Regions from separate parts of the Homo sapiens genome. Here region 2 is linked to region 1. The links come from fine-mapping of genetic effects on gene expression. Tissue or cell type: neutrophils. Region 1 holds a variant in brackets; the other region holds the start of a gene. All regions are shown on one strand. Distances are between the middles of the regions.

Region 1 (8,206 bases):
TGCGATTTCATTCTTGAAGTCAGTGAGACCAAGAACCCACCAAGTCCGGACACAATGGGACCTGTATGCAGTCTATGGGGCAGTTCAGACCAAAGGGCTGGGCGTGGCACCACAGCTGCCCCGAGCCCTTGGCCTCTCTGAGCTTTTCTCTCTCACCTGAGAAATGGGATTTCAAGGAAAATGAGTAGCGGTAACTTACCCACCTTACTCCACGGTTACTGTGAAGCGCCCAGAAGAGAAGCCATGGATGTGGGCGACGCATTCGAGGTTAGCTTCAGAAGCAGCGGGCGCTGGGTAGCCACATTGACACCCGGTACTAGCGCTTCCTCCTGGGGGTTCCTGGGTCCAAGGGGGTTGTGGCAGTCCTTGCCACAGAGATGCAGAGTCTGCAATGTCCAAATGTGCTTCGTGTGCAGTGGGAGCCTGGCAAGCTGTAACCCTTGTCGTGATTCACGCGTCCCAGGGACACTTGGGGGCCGCTGTGGGCAACCCCCCACACCCCGCTTTTGGTCAGGGCTGTGCCAGCAGAAGGCTGGGGCTGGACAATAGAGGGGATGTTGGGGCCGGGTGGGAGGCGGGAAAGGAGAAGGAGGGAAGTTTAGCAAGGAAAGAGCAGAAACGTCCCAGAGAAATTAAATTTCAGTTTTGTGGTGAACAGCTGGATCCTTTTTCCCATATCCTCACCAAAAAATTCCAATACTATCTTTGTCACCTTGTGTCATGGATCTATTTTGAGCTCTCTCGCGGTTCCTGAGCTCCTGTGTTTAGAGTGCACCAGGCTCTGCCTTCCGGGTTCAAGTCATTTTTTTTTTTGAGATGGAGTCTCGCTCTGTCGTCCCAGGCTGGAGTGCAGTGGCATGATATCGGCTCACTGCAACCTCCGCCTCCCGGGTTCAAGTGATTCTCCTGCCTCAGCCTCTCAAGTAGCTGGGATTACAGGTGCACGCCACCACGCCTGGCTGATTTTTGTATTTTTAGTAGAGGTGGGGGTTTCACTGTGTTGTCCAGGCTGGTCTCAAACTCCTGGCCTCAAATGATCCACCCAGCTAGGCCTCCTAAAGTGCTGGGATTACAGGTGTGAGCCACCGCGCCCGGCCTTGCGATTTTTGTATCTCAGCTCAGCTCTTCACACGAATTCATCCTCACAACCGCAGGGGATTCGGAGGGGTCCAGTAATTTTTCCCTTTTCACAGCCAAAGCAGCTGAATCACCAAGGCCATGAAACGAATGAGGATCTGCCTGATGTTCACCAGGCTGGCCCCTCCAGATCACTGCAAAGTGGGGCAAGATGAGAACAGCGCCAGGGGTTGATGACACCCAGGGCGCCCCAGCAGGACATCCTGGCCCAACTGCCCTCCAGGGTCCCGGTCAGAGGGCCAAGCTTTGCTGCTAGTCATGGCCCAAGTAGCCTGTAGCTTCTTCCCCGGATGGATGTGGGATCCTCCCAGAAAGGCCTGACCCGACCTAATCCCAGTCTCCCCACCTTTTCTGATACTGCTTCCTTACCTGGACCTCTCCACCCGCTGCCCGGCCCACACTCACCACTGGGCTCAGCTCTGCTGGGACACTGCTGCCTGGACCGTGCGTGGATGGGGGCGGGGCGGGGACGAGGGGAGGTGGAGAGGTCACTGCTCCTGGGAGGGCTGGGAGTGGCAGTGAGCCGTTGGTCTGGCCATTCTCCCTCCGTGAGGTTCAAGATCAAAAGTTCCCATGGGAAGGCCACAACCATTTCTTCTGTGAGGCCCGGAAATGATAATGGGTTCCTCATACTAAAAGACTTTCCTGGCCAGGTGCGGCGGCTCGCGCCTATAATCCCAGCACTTGGGGAGGCCGAGGCCGGCGGATCACTAGAGATCAGGAGTTAGAGACCAGCCTGGCCAACATGGTGAAACCTTATCTCTACTAAAAATACAAAATTAGCCGAGCGTGGTGGTACATGCCTGTAGTCCCAGCTACTCGAGAGGCTGAGGCACGCGAATTGCTTGAACCCAGGAAGTGGAGGTTGCAGCAAACCGAGATCATGCCACTGCACTCCAGCCTGGGGGACAGAGTGAACTCTGTCTCAAAAAAAAATATTAAAATTTAGCCTGGTGCAGTGGCTTATGCCTATAATCTCAGCACTTTGGGAGGCCGAGGTGGGCAGATCACGAGGTCAGGGGATCGAGAACATTCTTGCTAACATGGTGAAACCCTTTCTCTACTAAAAATAGAAAAAATTAGCAGGGTGTTGTGGCACATGCCTGTAGTCCCAGCTACTTGGGAAACTGAGGCAGGAGAATCACTTGAACCCAGAAGGTGGAGGTTGCAGTGAGCTGAGATTGCGCCACTGCACTCCAGCCTGGGCGACAGAGCAAGACTCCGTCTTAAAAAAAAAAAAATTAAAATTAAATTTTTAAGACCTTCCTGCTCCCTGAAGTGGGCCACCCTGATCCCAGCCCCCAGGTCTGGAGTCACCATTTCCAGTTCTTCAAACCTGCCTGTTGCCGACATGCTGGGTGACCTTGGGCAAGTCACTTCGCCTCTCTGTGCCTCGAGGCCTCACCAATAGAATGACCCTCACTGGAAGCTGATAATCAAGTCCGCCCACCCACTTGGACATTCCAGGACTGTTCAATTTCAGTGCCATATAGACTTACATAAGCAGGGCTGCATTTCTTTAATTTGAGTAAAATGCAAATGCTCCTGGTGGATGAGTCTGCACTTCTCAACCCCAAGCCTGCTCAGGTGCATCACTTGGGCGGGAGGGAGAGGTCCCACCCAGACCCACGGACCTCTGCTCTTGGGGTGGACAGGCCCTGGAGATTGGCATTTTGCAGAGCCTCCTGAGGAGGGGAGTTCAGACTTTAGAAGGCAGAATGAGGGGCGAACTCCCCAACCCCAATACCTGACCACATGCACAACAATGACAAATTTTTGGGAAAAGAGTGAGCCAACAGGCCAAGGTGGGTGGATCACCTGAGGTCAGGAATCCAAGACCATCCTGGCAAACATGGTGAAACCCCATCTCTACTAAAAATACAAAAATGAGCTGGCTGTGATGGTACGCTTGTGGTCCCAGCTACTCAGGAGGCTGAGGCAGGAGAATTGCTTGCACCCAGGAGGCGGAGGTTGCAGTGAGCCGAGATCTTGCCACTGCACTCCAGTCTGGGTGACAGAGTGAGAAGGGACCTCCAAGGCTATCGTGTTCAGCTGCTGGGGTGAGGAGTAGGGCAGAAGGCTGGGCACAGGATGTTTAGGGGATGACAGGACAGAGAAGACCTGTGGCCCCCAGCAGGGTGGCCTCAGCCGGGGGGACTTTCCCACCCACCTCTGCGCACTCAGGCTACCCAACTGAAAACAATGCAGCCTCAAAACTGCCCTTCTTCGGGGAAGACAGGAAGGTTCCCGTAGCAGAACAAGTAAAACGTCAGGAGTTAGCTAACCGAGCAAGATGAAAAAAACTTGCAACGCCTCCCTACACGCAAGTGCCAGGAAAGGGAAGGAAATCACACAGGGGCACAGCTGAAAGCCAGCAGAGCCAAGGACCTGAGTGGCTTTCTTGGAACTGATAGCTTCGCGCTAGACAAAAGTGAATGAGAATATGAACCAGGTATAAAAAGCACGAGCCGGGTGCAGTGGTGCGCGCCTGTCAGGCCCACCTGCTAGGGGGGCCAAGTGGGAGGATCACTTGAGCCCAGGGGTTTGAGACCAGCCTGGGCAACCTTGTGAAGCCCCATTTCT[TA/T]AAAAAAAAAAAAAAAGTTGAATGAAAAGAGCACAAAGAAGAGATGACAGGCCAGGCACGGTGGCTCACGCCTGTAATCCCAACACTTTGGGAGGCCAAGGCGGACAGATCACCTGAGGCCAGGAGTTTGAGACCATCCTGGCCAACATGGTGAAACCCTGTTTCTACTAAAAATACAAAAATTAGGCGGGTGTGGTGGCGGGCGCCTGTAATCCCAGCTACTCAGGAGGCTGAGGCAGGAGAATGGTGTGAACCCAGGAGGCAGAGGTTGCAGTGAGCCAAGATTGCACCACTGCACTCCAGCCTTGGTGACAGAGCGAGACTCTGTCTCAAAGAAAAGAAAAAAAGGAGAGATGACAAAAAAAATATATATATCAGGAAATGCAAAGAAACTGCAGAGGGGAGGAAACGCATTAACCAAAACAGGACCATGACACATCTAAAAACAGAGTTACAACATAGTACATGCATCTGAAAAGCAAGGGAATAGTGTGGGAGAGAAACTTGAAATAATTGCAGTGAATTTAGAGAAAAAGACAAATTAAAACAATTAGAGAGAAAATGACCATTATGGGTCCCAGACCTTCCAACATCAGGGTGACTGCACTCCCTGAAGTAGATTATCCAACAACTGAAACAAAAAGCTATTTAGAGAAAGTCTTCCTGAAACGAAGAACCAACTCTACAGACTGCGAGGGCATGACTACTCCAGGGAAGCAAATTCACAATGACCAACATAGGAACATACTGGCTGAGTTAGTGAACTTTTTTTTTTTTTTTTTTCAAGACAGAGTTTCGCTCTTGTTGCCAGGCTGGAGTGCAATGGCAAGATCTCAGCTCACCACCACCTCTGCCTCCCCGATTCAAGCGATTCTCCTGCCTCAGCCTCCCGAGTAGCTGGGATTACAAGCATGTGCCACCATGCCCAGCTATTTTTGTATTTTTAGCAGAGACAGGGTTTCTCCATGTTGGTCAGGCAGGTTTCGAACTCCCGACCTCAGGTGATCAGCCCGCCTCGGCCTCCCAAAGTGCTAGGATTACAGGCATGTGCCACTGCGCCCGGCCAAGTTACTGAACTTTAAGGATAAAGAAAAAACTCTTCAGGCACCTGGACAAAATGTCATTAAAGAATGGAATGGAAGGCCGGGTGTGGTGGCTTAAGCCTGTAATCCCAGCACTTTGGGAGGTTGAGGCGGGCAGATCACCTGAGGTCAGGAGTTCAAGACCAGCCTGACCAACATGGAGAAACCCCCTCTCTACTAAAAATGCAAAATTAGCCGGGCGTGGTGGCGCATGCCTGTAATCCTAGCTACTGAGGAGGCTGAGGCAGGAGAATCGCTTGAACCCCAGAGGCAGGGGTTGCCGTGAGCGGAGATCGCGCCATTGCACTCCAGCCTGGGCAAGAAGAGCAAAACTCCATCTCAAAAATAAATAAATACATTAAAAATAAAAATACAAAAATTATCCAGGCGTGGTGGTGCATGCCTGTAATTCCAGCTACTTGGGAGGCTGAGGCAGGAGAATCACTTGAACCCGGGAGGCAGAGGTTGCAGTGAACCAAGATCACACCACTGCACTCCAGGCTGGGCAACAAGAGCAAAACTCTGCTTCAAAAAAAAAAAAAAAAAAAAAGAATGGAATGGAATCTATTTCAATTTCATTATAAGGCTAAATGCTGATAGCCAGGCATGGTGGCTCATGCCTGTAATCCCAACATTTTGAGAGGCCAGGATGGGTGGATCACTTGAGCTCAGGAGTTTGAGACCAGCCTGGACAACATGGCGAAACTCTGTGTACAAAAATACAAAAATTAGCCAGGCATGATGGCCAGTGCCTGTAATCCCAGCTACTGGGGTGGTTGAGTAGGGAGAATCACTTGAATCCGGGAGGCAGAGGTTAGAGTAAGCTGAGATCACACCATTGCACTCCAGCCTGAGCGACAGAGCAAGACCCCATCTCAAAAAAAAAAAAAAAAAAAAGGCGGCCAGACATGGTGGCTCACGCCTATAATTCCAGCACTTTGGGAGGCTGAGGTGGGTGGATTACTGGAGGTCAGGAGTTCAAGACCAGCCTGGCCAACATGGTGAAACCCCATCTCTACTAAAAATACAAAATTAGCTGGGCGTGGTGGCGTGCGCCTGTAATCTCAGCTACTCAGGAGGCTGAAGCAAGAGAATCACTTGAACCCGGGAGGCAGAAGTTGCAGGCAGAAAGAGTGAAACTCCTTCTCAAAAAAGAAAAAAAAAAAGACTAAATACTGGGAGAATTATGGTTTTAAAGTAAAAGTGTTACAAACCTTGACAAAATCTGAGCGTGGTGGCTCACACCTGTAATCCCAGCACTTTGGGAGGCCAAGGCAGGTGGATCACCTGAGGTCAGGAGTTTGAGACCAGACTGAACCTGGGAGGCAGAGGTTGCAGTGAGCTGAGATCACGCCACTGCACTCCAGCCTGGGTGACAGAGCTAGACTCTGTCTCAAAAATAAATAAATAAAATAAAATAAAAATAAAAATAAATAAACCTTGACAAAGTAAAAATATCAGCATCAAAATCAGAGCTGGGGTGGGCAAGAGGAAGAGGGAGGATGTTTGAGGGGAGTGGTCGCCTTTTTTATCGCAAGAAATGACTGATCTTGCTCAAAGTGAAACATCTGAGTTTTTACCCCAAGACTCCAATGTCTTAATTAATTTCATAATCTTTTTTCTTAACCATGAGGAATTCATTATGAAGTAATAGCTCTTGTGGAAAGTAAATATTTATCTAAGATTCAGCAAGTTTTCTGGGTTTTTTTGCCTTTTTTTTTTTTTTTTTTCAGATACAGGGTCTCACTCTGTTGCCCAGATTGGAGTGCAGTGGCACAATCATGGCTCACTGCAGCTCTGAACTTCTGGGCTTAAGTGATCCTTCCGCCTCAGCCTCCTGAGTAGCTAGGATTACAGGCGGCACATGTTCCCACACCCAGCTAGTTTGTCTGTTTGTTTGTTTGTTTGTTTGTTTGTTTCGAGATGGAGTCTGGCTCTGTCACCCAGGCTGGAGTCCAGTGGCACAATCTCGGCTCACCGCAACCTCCGCCTCCCGGGTTCAAGCGATTCTTCTGCTTCAGCCTCCTGAGTAGCTGGGACTACAGGTGCGCACCACCATGCCCAGCTAATTTTTTGTATTTTTAGTGGAGACGGGGTTTCACCATATTGGCCAGGCTGGTCTCGAACTCCCGACCTCGTGATCTGCCTGGCTCGGCCTCCCAAAGTGCCGGGATTACAGGTGTGAACCACCACACGCAGCTGACACCCAGCTAGTTTTTAAAAATTTTTTTGTAGAGACAGGGGTCTCACTATGTTGCCCAGGCTGGTCTCAAGCTCCTGGGATCCTCTCACCTTGTTCTCCCAAAGTGCTGGGATTACAGGTGTGAACCATAGCACCTGATCTGCCTTTTTTTTTTTTTCTGTTAAACTCAAGTAAAATAGAATATATTTAGTTTAAAATAGAACTGGTACGGTGCAATCTAATCTAAAATTGTTTGGACTTACCTTTCTCTGAACTGCAGGGGCAGAAGGAGGGTGATCCCTTTTCTCCCCATGTAAAGGGTCATGACCGGCACCTCTATTACAAAAATCAAGTTAACAAGAGAAAAAAGAACAGGCTTATTACATGCACATGAGACATGCAAAATATGAACTCAAAGAGGGGCCAGAAGGTTGAGGAGAGGAAAAATGGAGAAATGAATAGGCTCAGTGCTCAGACAGTGGTTAGCAAATGACTGGGAGCTGAGTGGGACAAGTTATGGGAAGGTGAGGGCGGAACTGCAAAGGAACAAAAGTTGGATTTGTTTGTTTGTTTGTTCGTTCTGAGACAGAGTTTCACTCTTGTTGCCCAGGCTGGAGTGCAATGGTGCGATCTCGGCTCACTGCAACCTCCGCCTCCCAGGTTCAAGCAATTCTCTTGCCTCAGCCTCCCGAGTAGCTGGAACTACAGGCACGTGCCACCATTCTCGGCTAATTTTTTGTATTTTCAGTAGAGATGGGGTTTCACCATGTTGGCCAGGCTTGTCTCAAACACTCTTTACCTCAGGTGATCCACTCGCCTCGGCCTCCCAAAGTGCTGGGATTACAGGCATGAGCCACTGCGCCCGGCCGAGACAACCACAATTCTTTTATTGTTGTTGTTTTTTGAGATCGGAGTCTCCCTATGTTGCCTGGTCTGGTCTCAAACTCCTGGGCTCAAGTGATCCTCCAGTCTCAACCTCCTAAATAGCTGGGATTATAGGTGCATGCTGCTGTACCTGGTTTTGCAATTCTTTTGGAAAGAAACTTTCTTAGTCAGATAAGGAATTCCAGGAAGAGTCCCTCCCTCCACTCGGGGGTAGGGAGGGTACAAGACAAGGTTAGGCAGCTTTGCAGTCCTCAGCATGTCAGAGCCCCAGTCTGGGGTATCACTTTCTGAGCCCCAACCTTCCTATCCCTCTTCATCTCTCCAAACTTCTCTGTG
Region 2 (8,206 bases), 54 kb after region 1:
GTGTGCACTCCCCTCCCCAGGCCACATGACTACTCCGCAGATGGGTTTAATGACTGGGCCTTCATGACAACTCATTCCTGGGATGAGGATCCCTCTGGCGAGTGGGTCCTAGAGATTGAAAACACCAGCGAAGCCAACAACTATGGTACTGGGGGCACTTGAGGGGTAGGGGTACGAGGTGGAGGGCTGGCAGGATCTCGAGCACTGGGTGTGGTGCCAGCACTGTCTTAACTCTTGCCTCCTCCCCGCTCTGGAACAGGGACGCTGACCAAGTTCACCCTCGTACTCTATGGCACCGCCCCTGAGGGGCTGCCCGTACCTCCAGAAAGCAGTGGCTGCAAGACCCTCACGTCCAGTCAGGCCTGTGTGGGTCAGTAGTGGGTGCTGTTGGGCTTTGGGGGCCTGAGTCTGGGGGTAAGGCGGGTGCCTGTCCTGAAGCCCAGCTCTAACAGAAAAAAGTCTCAAGAGACCTAGGGCCCCTGGGGCTCTTGGGATGACCACAGTCCTGGGGCTGGAGGATCCTGGGGATGTGGTGACTTGGCTTGGGGCTGCTGTGGTCCTGGGGCTACAGTCTGTTTAGCTGACACACACTTGCCCTCTCTCCCACGCCGGCAGTGTGCGAGGAAGGCTTCTCCCTGCACCAGAAGAGCTGTGTCCAGCACTGCCCTCCAGGGTTCGCCCCCCAAGTCCTCGATACGCACTATAGCACCGAGAATGACGTGGAGACCATCCGGGCCAGCGTCTGCGCCCCCTGCCACGCCTCATGTGCCACATGCCAGGGGCCGGCCCTGACAGACTGCCTCAGCTGCCCCAGCCACGCCTCCTTGGACCCTGTGGAGCAGACTTGCTCCCGGCAAAGCCAGAGCAGCCGAGAGTCCCCGCCACAGCAGCAGCCACCTCGGCTGCCCCCGGAGGTGGAGGCGGGGCAACGGCTGCGGGCAGGGCTGCTGCCCTCACACCTGCCTGAGGTGGTGGCCGGCCTCAGCTGCGCCTTCATCGTGCTGGTCTTCGTCACTGTCTTCCTGGTCCTGCAGCTGCGCTCTGGCTTTAGTTTTCGGGGGGTGAAGGTGTACACCATGGACCGTGGCCTCATCTCCTACAAGGGGCTGCCCCCTGAAGCCTGGCAGGAGGAGTGCCCGTCTGACTCAGAAGAGGACGAGGGCCGGGGCGAGAGGACCGCCTTTATCAAAGACCAGAGCGCCCTCTGATGAGCCCACTGCCCACCCCCTCAAGCCAATCCCCTCCTTGGGCACTTTTTAATTCACCAAAGTATTTTTTTATCTTGGGACTGGGTTTGGACCCCAGCTGGGAGGCAAGAGGGGTGGAGACTGCTTCCCATCCTACCCTCGGGCCCACCTGGCCACCTGAGGTGGGCCCAGGACCAGCTGGGGCGTGGGGAGGGCCGTACCCCACCCTCAGCACCCCTTCCATGTGGAGAAAGGAGTGAAACCTTTAGGGCAGCTTGCCCCGGCCCCGGCCCCAGCCAGAGTTCCTGCGGAGTGAAGAGGGGCAGCCCTTGCTTGTTGGGATTCCTGACCCAGGCCGCAGCTCTTGCCCTTCCCTGTCCCTCTAAAGCAATAATGGTCCCATCCAGGCAGTCGGGGGCTGGCCTAGGAGATATCTGAGGGAGGAGGCCACCTCTCCAAGGGCTTCTGCACCCTCCACCCTGTCCCCCAGCTCTGGTGAGTCTTGGCGGCAGCAGCCATCATAGGAAGGGACCAAGGCAAGGCAGGTGCCTCCAGGTGTGCACGTGGCATGTGGCCTGTGGCCTGTGTCCCATGACCCACCCCTGTGCTCCGTGCCTCCACCACCACTGGCCACCAGGCTGGCGCAGCCAAGGCCGAAGCTCTGGCTGAACCCTGTGCTGGTGTCCTGACCACCCTCCCCTCTCTTGCACCCGCCTCTCCCGTCAGGGCCCAAGTCCCTGTTTTCTGAGCCCGGGCTGCCTGGGCTGTTGGCACTCACAGACCTGGAGCCCCTGGGTGGGTGGTGGGGAGGGGCGCTGGCCCAGCCGGCCTCTCTGGCCTCCCACCCGATGCTGCTTTCCCCTGTGGGGATCTCAGGGGCTGTTTGAGGATATATTTTCACTTTGTGATTATTTCACTTTAGATGCTGATGATTTGTTTTTGTATTTTTAATGGGGGTAGCAGCTGGACTACCCACGTTCTCACACCCACCGTCCGCCCTGCTCCTCCCTGGCTGCCCTGGCCCTGAGGTGTGGGGGCTGCAGCATGTTGCTGAGGAGTGAGGAATAGTTGAGCCCCAAGTCCTGAAGAGGCGGGCCAGCCAGGCGGGCTCAAGGAAAGGGGGTCCCAGTGGGAGGGGCAGGCTGACATCTGTGTTTCAAGTGGGGCTCGCCATGCCGGGGGTTCATAGGTCACTGGCTCTCCAAGTGCCAGAGGTGGGCAGGTGGTGGCACTGAGCCCCCCCAACACTGTGCCCTGGTGGAGAAAGCACTGACCTGTCATGCCCCCCTCAAACCTCCTCTTCTGACGTGCCTTTTGCACCCCTCCCATTAGGACAATCAGTCCCCTCCCATCTGGGAGTCCCCTTTTCTTTTCTACCCTAGCCATTCCTGGTACCCAGCCATCTGCCCAGGGGTGCCCCCTCCTCTCCCATCCCCCTGCCCTCGTGGCCAGCCCGGCTGGTTTTGTAAGATGCTGGGTTGGTGCACAGTGATTTTTTTCTTGTAATTTAAACAGGCCCAGCATTGCTGGTTCTATTTAATGGACATGAGATAATGTTAGAGGTTTTAAAGTGATTAAACGTGCAGACTATGCAAACCAGGCCCAGTCTCCAGTGTGGTACCGTTGCTCCTGCATCGCAGCTGAGGATAGGGGGCCAGTTAGGCCTACACAGTGGCCTGCCTGCCTGGATGTGGGCCCAAGTCAGAAGGCCAAAGTCCTCCAAGGGGCGGGAGGATGCGCCAGCCCCTAGTGGAGGAGCTGGTGCCCCTGGGGTGGGGCTGGTGACCCCTGGTCCTCAGGAGCTGAGCACTAAACTCCCAAAGTCCTGGTTTCCAGCAGTGTGAAGAACTGGGCCTATTGTGTCTTCCTGGGCTGAAGTGATCTGGTCGCCACAGGCTATAGGGCTGAGGCCTAAGGTGGAGGGAGGCCTGACTGAATCAAGATGACTTCTTGTGGGGAGCCTGAGTCCCAAATGGAAAACTCCACGCCTGTCCGCTCCCCAACCCCTGCCCCTTGATTTCCCCAGGTCTCCCTTGGGACAGGAAGCCCCTGCCTGGGGGTAGGAGGATGGGGACAAAACCACTAGGATCTGTATCCGAGAAGCAGTCTCTGTTCGGGATATTTACTTGGAAATTTTATTCAAATGGAAGCTGGCGCCTGAGCCTCTCCTTAGGGAATTCCGTGAGGTGGGGAGGGCTGGGACCAGGGTTCCCTCTTTCTCTTCTGCGGTGGCCCTGGCCTGGTGCTAGGACTGCGCGCCTCCCCTCAGTACCCGCGGACACCCTGGGCTTCCCTGGGCCCAGCATCTGCCTGGGGCCTCGCCCTGGGCTCCCCCTCCTGACCCCCACCTTGCGCCCCTTCCCGGTGTTCCCGGGGCGCTGCCGGGCCCTGGGGCCTGCGGGGCGCGGGCGGCTCTTGGCTGGGCCATTCTTTCCCGGCCCCCTCCTCCCTTCCGTTTCCGTGGCCGTGCGGCCGGCTAGAGGCTGCGGCCCAGCGCGGAGCAGGGGGGCTGGCAGGCGTCGGGGCGGTCGGGCCGGTCCCGCCCGCCCCTTCCCCTCCACAGGCCCGCCCCGGGGCCTGGGCCAACTGAAACCGCGGGAGGAGGAAGCGCGGAATCAGGAACTGGCCGGGGTCCGCACCGGGCCTGAGTCGGTCCGAGGCCGTCCCAGGAGCAGCTGCCCGTGCGGGTACCTCTAGCCCCGGGGCCTGGAGGAGCGGTGGGAGCTGGGGGCGCGGCAGGCAGGGGCAGAGCAGGCGTTCCGAGGGCCAGAGACCCACCCAGGTGGGGGTAGGGGCCGCGGAAGGGCGGGGATGGCCGCAGGGGCAGGGCTCAGGCTGTGGGCGCCTGAGGCTTCAGCTGGGGCAGGCTTGGCCTGTCGAGGACCTGGGCAAGGGTGTCCCTGTAAGGGGTGGTGGGTGGAAGGGCCTGGGGAGGGAGGCTCCAGGTTGGCTCCTGTTCCCGAACGTGCGGAGGAGACCCTGACGCTAAGGAAGCAATGAGGGCCAGTCCCCAGGCCAGGCTGCTGCTGGGTACCCATGGCTGCGTGTGAGCGAGGCAGGACCCCACCTCCTCCCCGTCTGCAGTCCATCCTGACCCTACAGTCCCCAGTCTCCTCGTCCCATGCCTCCGTCTCCAGCTGCTGCCTTGCCTCCAGGGATGGCCCCTTTTCTGTCCCCAGAACAGCACTATGGGCTTCTCTTCCGAGCTGTGCAGCCCCCAGGGCCACGGGGTCCTGCAGCAAATGCAGGAGGCCGAGCTTCGTCTACTGGAGGGCATGAGAAAGTGGATGGCCCAGCGGGTCAAGAGTGACAGGGAGTATGCAGGACTGCTTCACCACATGTCCCTGCAGGACAGTGGGGGCCAGAGCCGGGCCATCAGCCCTGACAGCCCCATCAGTCAGGTGGGTCTCTATGGGACTCTGGTGGGTGCTGGCTGTATCTGCCTTCTCCTTCCTCTCCTGGGGGCCCTCTGGGGCAGTGGCTGGAGATCTGGCAGGCCAATGCTTGGGAGCCATTGTGCCCCCCTCCCTGCCTCCCCCATCTGTGCTGTATAGTCCTGGGCTGAGATCACCAGCCAAACTGAGGGCCTGAGCCGCTTGCTGCGGCAGCACGCAGAGGATCTGAACTCAGGGCCCCTGAGCAAGCTGAGCCTGCTCATCCGGGAACGGCAGCAGCTTCGCAAGACCTACAGCGAGCAGTGGCAGCAGCTGCAGCAGGAGCTCACCAAGGTGAGCGGGCAGCACTGGGGCTTCGGTCATTTCTGTCTAAATTTTGAGCCTCGAAGGGGTTGTTTTGCACAAGAGGCCCTGGATTCACTGGGGAAGTGTAAGTCCCTGACCGCAGGCCTGGCTTGCTCTAACCTTGATGCAGCTTCCTCTCTTCCTTCCCCTACGTTGAGCTGGCTTGCAGCAAGGCCTCTCTGTGCTTTTTCTGTGCCTGGGCAAAGTGCTGGGAGTGTAAGGATGAGTGACCGGTCACGTGCCTGGGAGAAGCTCAGAATCGGTACTCGCCTCCACACTGTGCCATCTGGCTCTGGGTTCTGAGAGTCAGGGAGAGGAATGAGGGTCAGTCTGTTTGCCTTCGACCTAGGCAGCCTCCTCTCAGGGCCCCAGAGACTGGGCAGCAGCATGGCCCCCCGAAGGTCGAGGATTCGGGCCGTGAAGTCAGCCTGCCTAGGTTTGAATCCCACCCAGCTCCTCAGTCTAGAGGCTGTGTGATTTGGAACTATTTATCTGGGAGCCTAGTGCCCCCATTCAGTGTGCTGGTCACCCTCCCTGCACCACACCCCTTCCTCAAGTGCAGAGCCCAGCCTTGCCATGGACCCACAGCGGCCCCTGGTGGCCACCCTGGCCCCATTCCTCGCCCCAAAAGATCATCTGATTCAAGGGTGGGCCCATTTTTATAAAGTTTTGCTGGAACACAGCTATGCCCTTTTGTTTTCATATTGTCTGTGACTACAATGACAGAGTTGAGTAATTGTGACAGAGGCTCTATGGCCTACAAGCGTAAAATATTTATTTACTATCTGGCCCTTTAAGAAAAAGACTGATCTAGTCGAGGAATCTAGCTCAGTTACAGATGGGGAAACTGAGGTTGGGCGCTTGCCCAACATATCCCAGCACATAAACAGGAGAACTGGGACGAGAACACTGATCTCGGGCTGTCATCTATTCCTACTGCCAAGAACATAATTTGCAGGACCCAGTGCAAAGTGAAATTGTGGGGGTCTTTGTTAAAAGATTGCTAGGAATTTCCAGGTGGCAATAATGGAGAATGAAACCAAGCACAGGGCCCTTCTACATGTGGAGCCCCGTGTGACTGCACAGGCCGTGCACACCTGCAACTGGCCCTGCCTGCCACCAGGCTACCACTGTCAGTCCAAGGAGGGACCATTGTAGCCTGTAGTCTACCTCTTTGCCTCCCCAAGGGGTCTGTCTTTAACAGGCTCTCTGATCTTTGACTCTCACGTCAGCAGCCAGCTTTCCCAGAAGTCTCCAGGTGCTCCTTGCCTGACGACAGGACCTTTCCAGGGCTTCACCCCAGGCAAGAATCTTCCACAACTGGGGACCTGCTGCCCCACACTGGCCTCTCCTCTCTCCCTAGACCCACAGCCAGGACATTGAGAAGCTGAAGAGCCAGTACCGAGCTCTGGCACGGGACAGTGCCCAAGCCAAGCGCAAGTACCAGGAGGCCAGCAAAGGTTCGTGGCTTCCCTTGCTGGCAGGGAGGGAATCCGAAGCCAGTGCTGACCTGTCCTTGGGTACCCAGAGAGTGGGGGCTGCCTGGGCCTCCATGCTGTCATCTATACCCCTTGCCCCCCTTCTGGCAGACAAGGACCGTGACAAGGCTAAGGACAAGTATGTGCGCAGCCTGTGGAAGCTCTTTGCTCACCACAACCGCTATGTGCTGGGCGTGCGGGCTGCGCAGCTACACCACCAGCACCACCACCAGCTCCTGCTGCCCGGCCTGCTGCGGTCACTGCAGGACCTGCACGAGGAGATGGCTTGCATCCTGTAAGCCCGCAGCCCCGTCCCCTGGCCCCCACCCTTGAGCAGCCCTAAGCCCAGCCATCAGGCCCAGAGGCAGGACCCAGAAAATCCATTGCTGGGAAGGTGCTGGCCATGTAACCACATGAGAACGGGACCTGGGCCAAGGATTGGAAACAGGCAACTTACCTCTGAATTACACTATTCCAGGGTCTCATTATTCCAGGGTTTTATTACATTCATTGAGCACTGTTCTGGGCTCTGGATTATACCAGAGAACGATGGTAGACAAAAACATCTGTCCTCAGGGATCTTTCGTGTTAGTGGAGTGAGGATGTGAGGAGCACTAAGAGCCATGGAGAAAAATAAAGCAAGAGAAGTGGATCGGGACCTGGGAGCACGGAGGCAAGGGAGGAGGTGACAGTTGTCCATAGAGTGATCTGGGAAAGCCTCTTGAGAGGTGACATTCAAAGAGGCCCCTGAGAGGGGTACGGGAGTGAATCATGGGGCTATTTGGAGAAAGACCATTCCAGAAAGGAGGACAGCAATTACACAGGCCTTGAGGTAGGAGAGTACCAGGGACTAATAGCCAGGAACCAGTGGTGCCTCTGAGAGTGAGGGAGGGGGAGAGTCATACACGAGGCTGGAGGAGGCAGGCGTCAAGGGCTACTGGGTGATAGAGGGTCTAGCAGGGCCATGGTGAGGACTTTGGCTCTGGGTGAACAAGAATGGCATGATCTGACCTCTGTTTTTTTGTTTCATTTTGTTTTAACTTTTTTTGAGTCAGAGTCTCGCTCTGCCGCCCAGGCTAGAGTGCAGTGGCATGATCTCGGCTTACTGCAACCTCCGCCTCCCAGGTTCAAGTGATTCCCCTGCCTCAGCCTCCCGAGTAGCTGGAACTACGGGCATGCGCCACCACACCCAGCTAATTTTTGTATTTTTAGTAGAGATGGGGTTTCACCATGTTGCCCAGGCTAGTCTCTAATTCCTGGGCTCAAAGCGATTTGCCTGCCTCTGCCTCCCAAAGTGCCGGGATTACAGGCATGAGCCACCATGCCCAGCCCTGACCTCTGTTTTAATAAGGCCACTCTGGCTGCTGTGCTGCAAATAGACTTCAGGGAGCAAGGACAGAAGCTGGGAGGCCAGAGAGCAGGCTCTTGCCATAATCCAGATCCAAGCTTTTGGCCACTAGGACGGGGAGGTAGCAATGGAGGTGAGGCGCGGTCAGGTCCTGGAAGGTGAAGCCAGTGGGATTTCCCTATGGATTGGAAGTGGGGCGTGAAATAGAGGAGTCAGGGGTCACTCTGGGGATTTGGCCTGGAGCAGCTGGAAGATGGAGTGGCTGTTAACTTATGTAGGGAAGGCTGTGGGAAGAAGAGGTTTAGGAGACAAGGATAGCAGTTCATTTATTTATTTATTTATTTATTTATTTATTTATTTATTTATTTATTTAGAGATGTAGTCTCATTCTTTCGCCAGGCTGGAGTGCAGTGGCGCGATCTTGGCTCACTGCAACCTCCACCTCCCAGGCTC

Alleles and levels. Positions count from the first base shown, and alleles are read on the strand shown. Sizes are in standard deviations (SD) of each study's normalised expression.
With allele T in place of TA in region 1, the expression in neutrophils of the gene that starts at base 3,834 in region 2 is higher (moderate effect, 0.53 SD a copy in BLUEPRINT).

The links. PIP is the estimated chance that this variant, and not a neighbour inherited with it, causes the effect.
Region 2: FES starts here. The variant in region 1 is fine-mapped to the expression of FES in neutrophils (BLUEPRINT, PIP 0.95).

What each region holds. Positions count from the first base shown.
Region 1 is chr15:90,826,777-90,834,982 of GRCh38, forward strand. No RefSeq gene overlaps it. Among named protein-coding and RNA genes, the nearest start is that of FURIN, 38 kb to the right of the region's middle. RefSeq lists an enhancer at 3,314-3,403. The variant TA/T (reference allele first, on the strand shown) is at 3,721.
Region 2 is chr15:90,880,671-90,888,876 of GRCh38, forward strand. It overlaps FES (FES proto-oncogene, tyrosine kinase), which reads left to right and starts at 3,834. Exons shown (of 19, transcript NM_002005.4): 1 at 3,834-3,874; 2 at 4,367-4,588; 3 at 4,742-4,915; 4 at 6,291-6,387; 5 at 6,517-6,700. The coding sequence starts at 4,376. FURIN (furin, paired basic amino acid cleaving enzyme) reads left to right here. Exons shown (of 16, transcript NM_002569.4): 14 at 21-145; 15 at 260-370; 16 at 616-2,787. The coding sequence ends at 1,208. RefSeq lists enhancers at 2,883-3,012, 4,550-4,979 and a silencer at 3,410-3,919.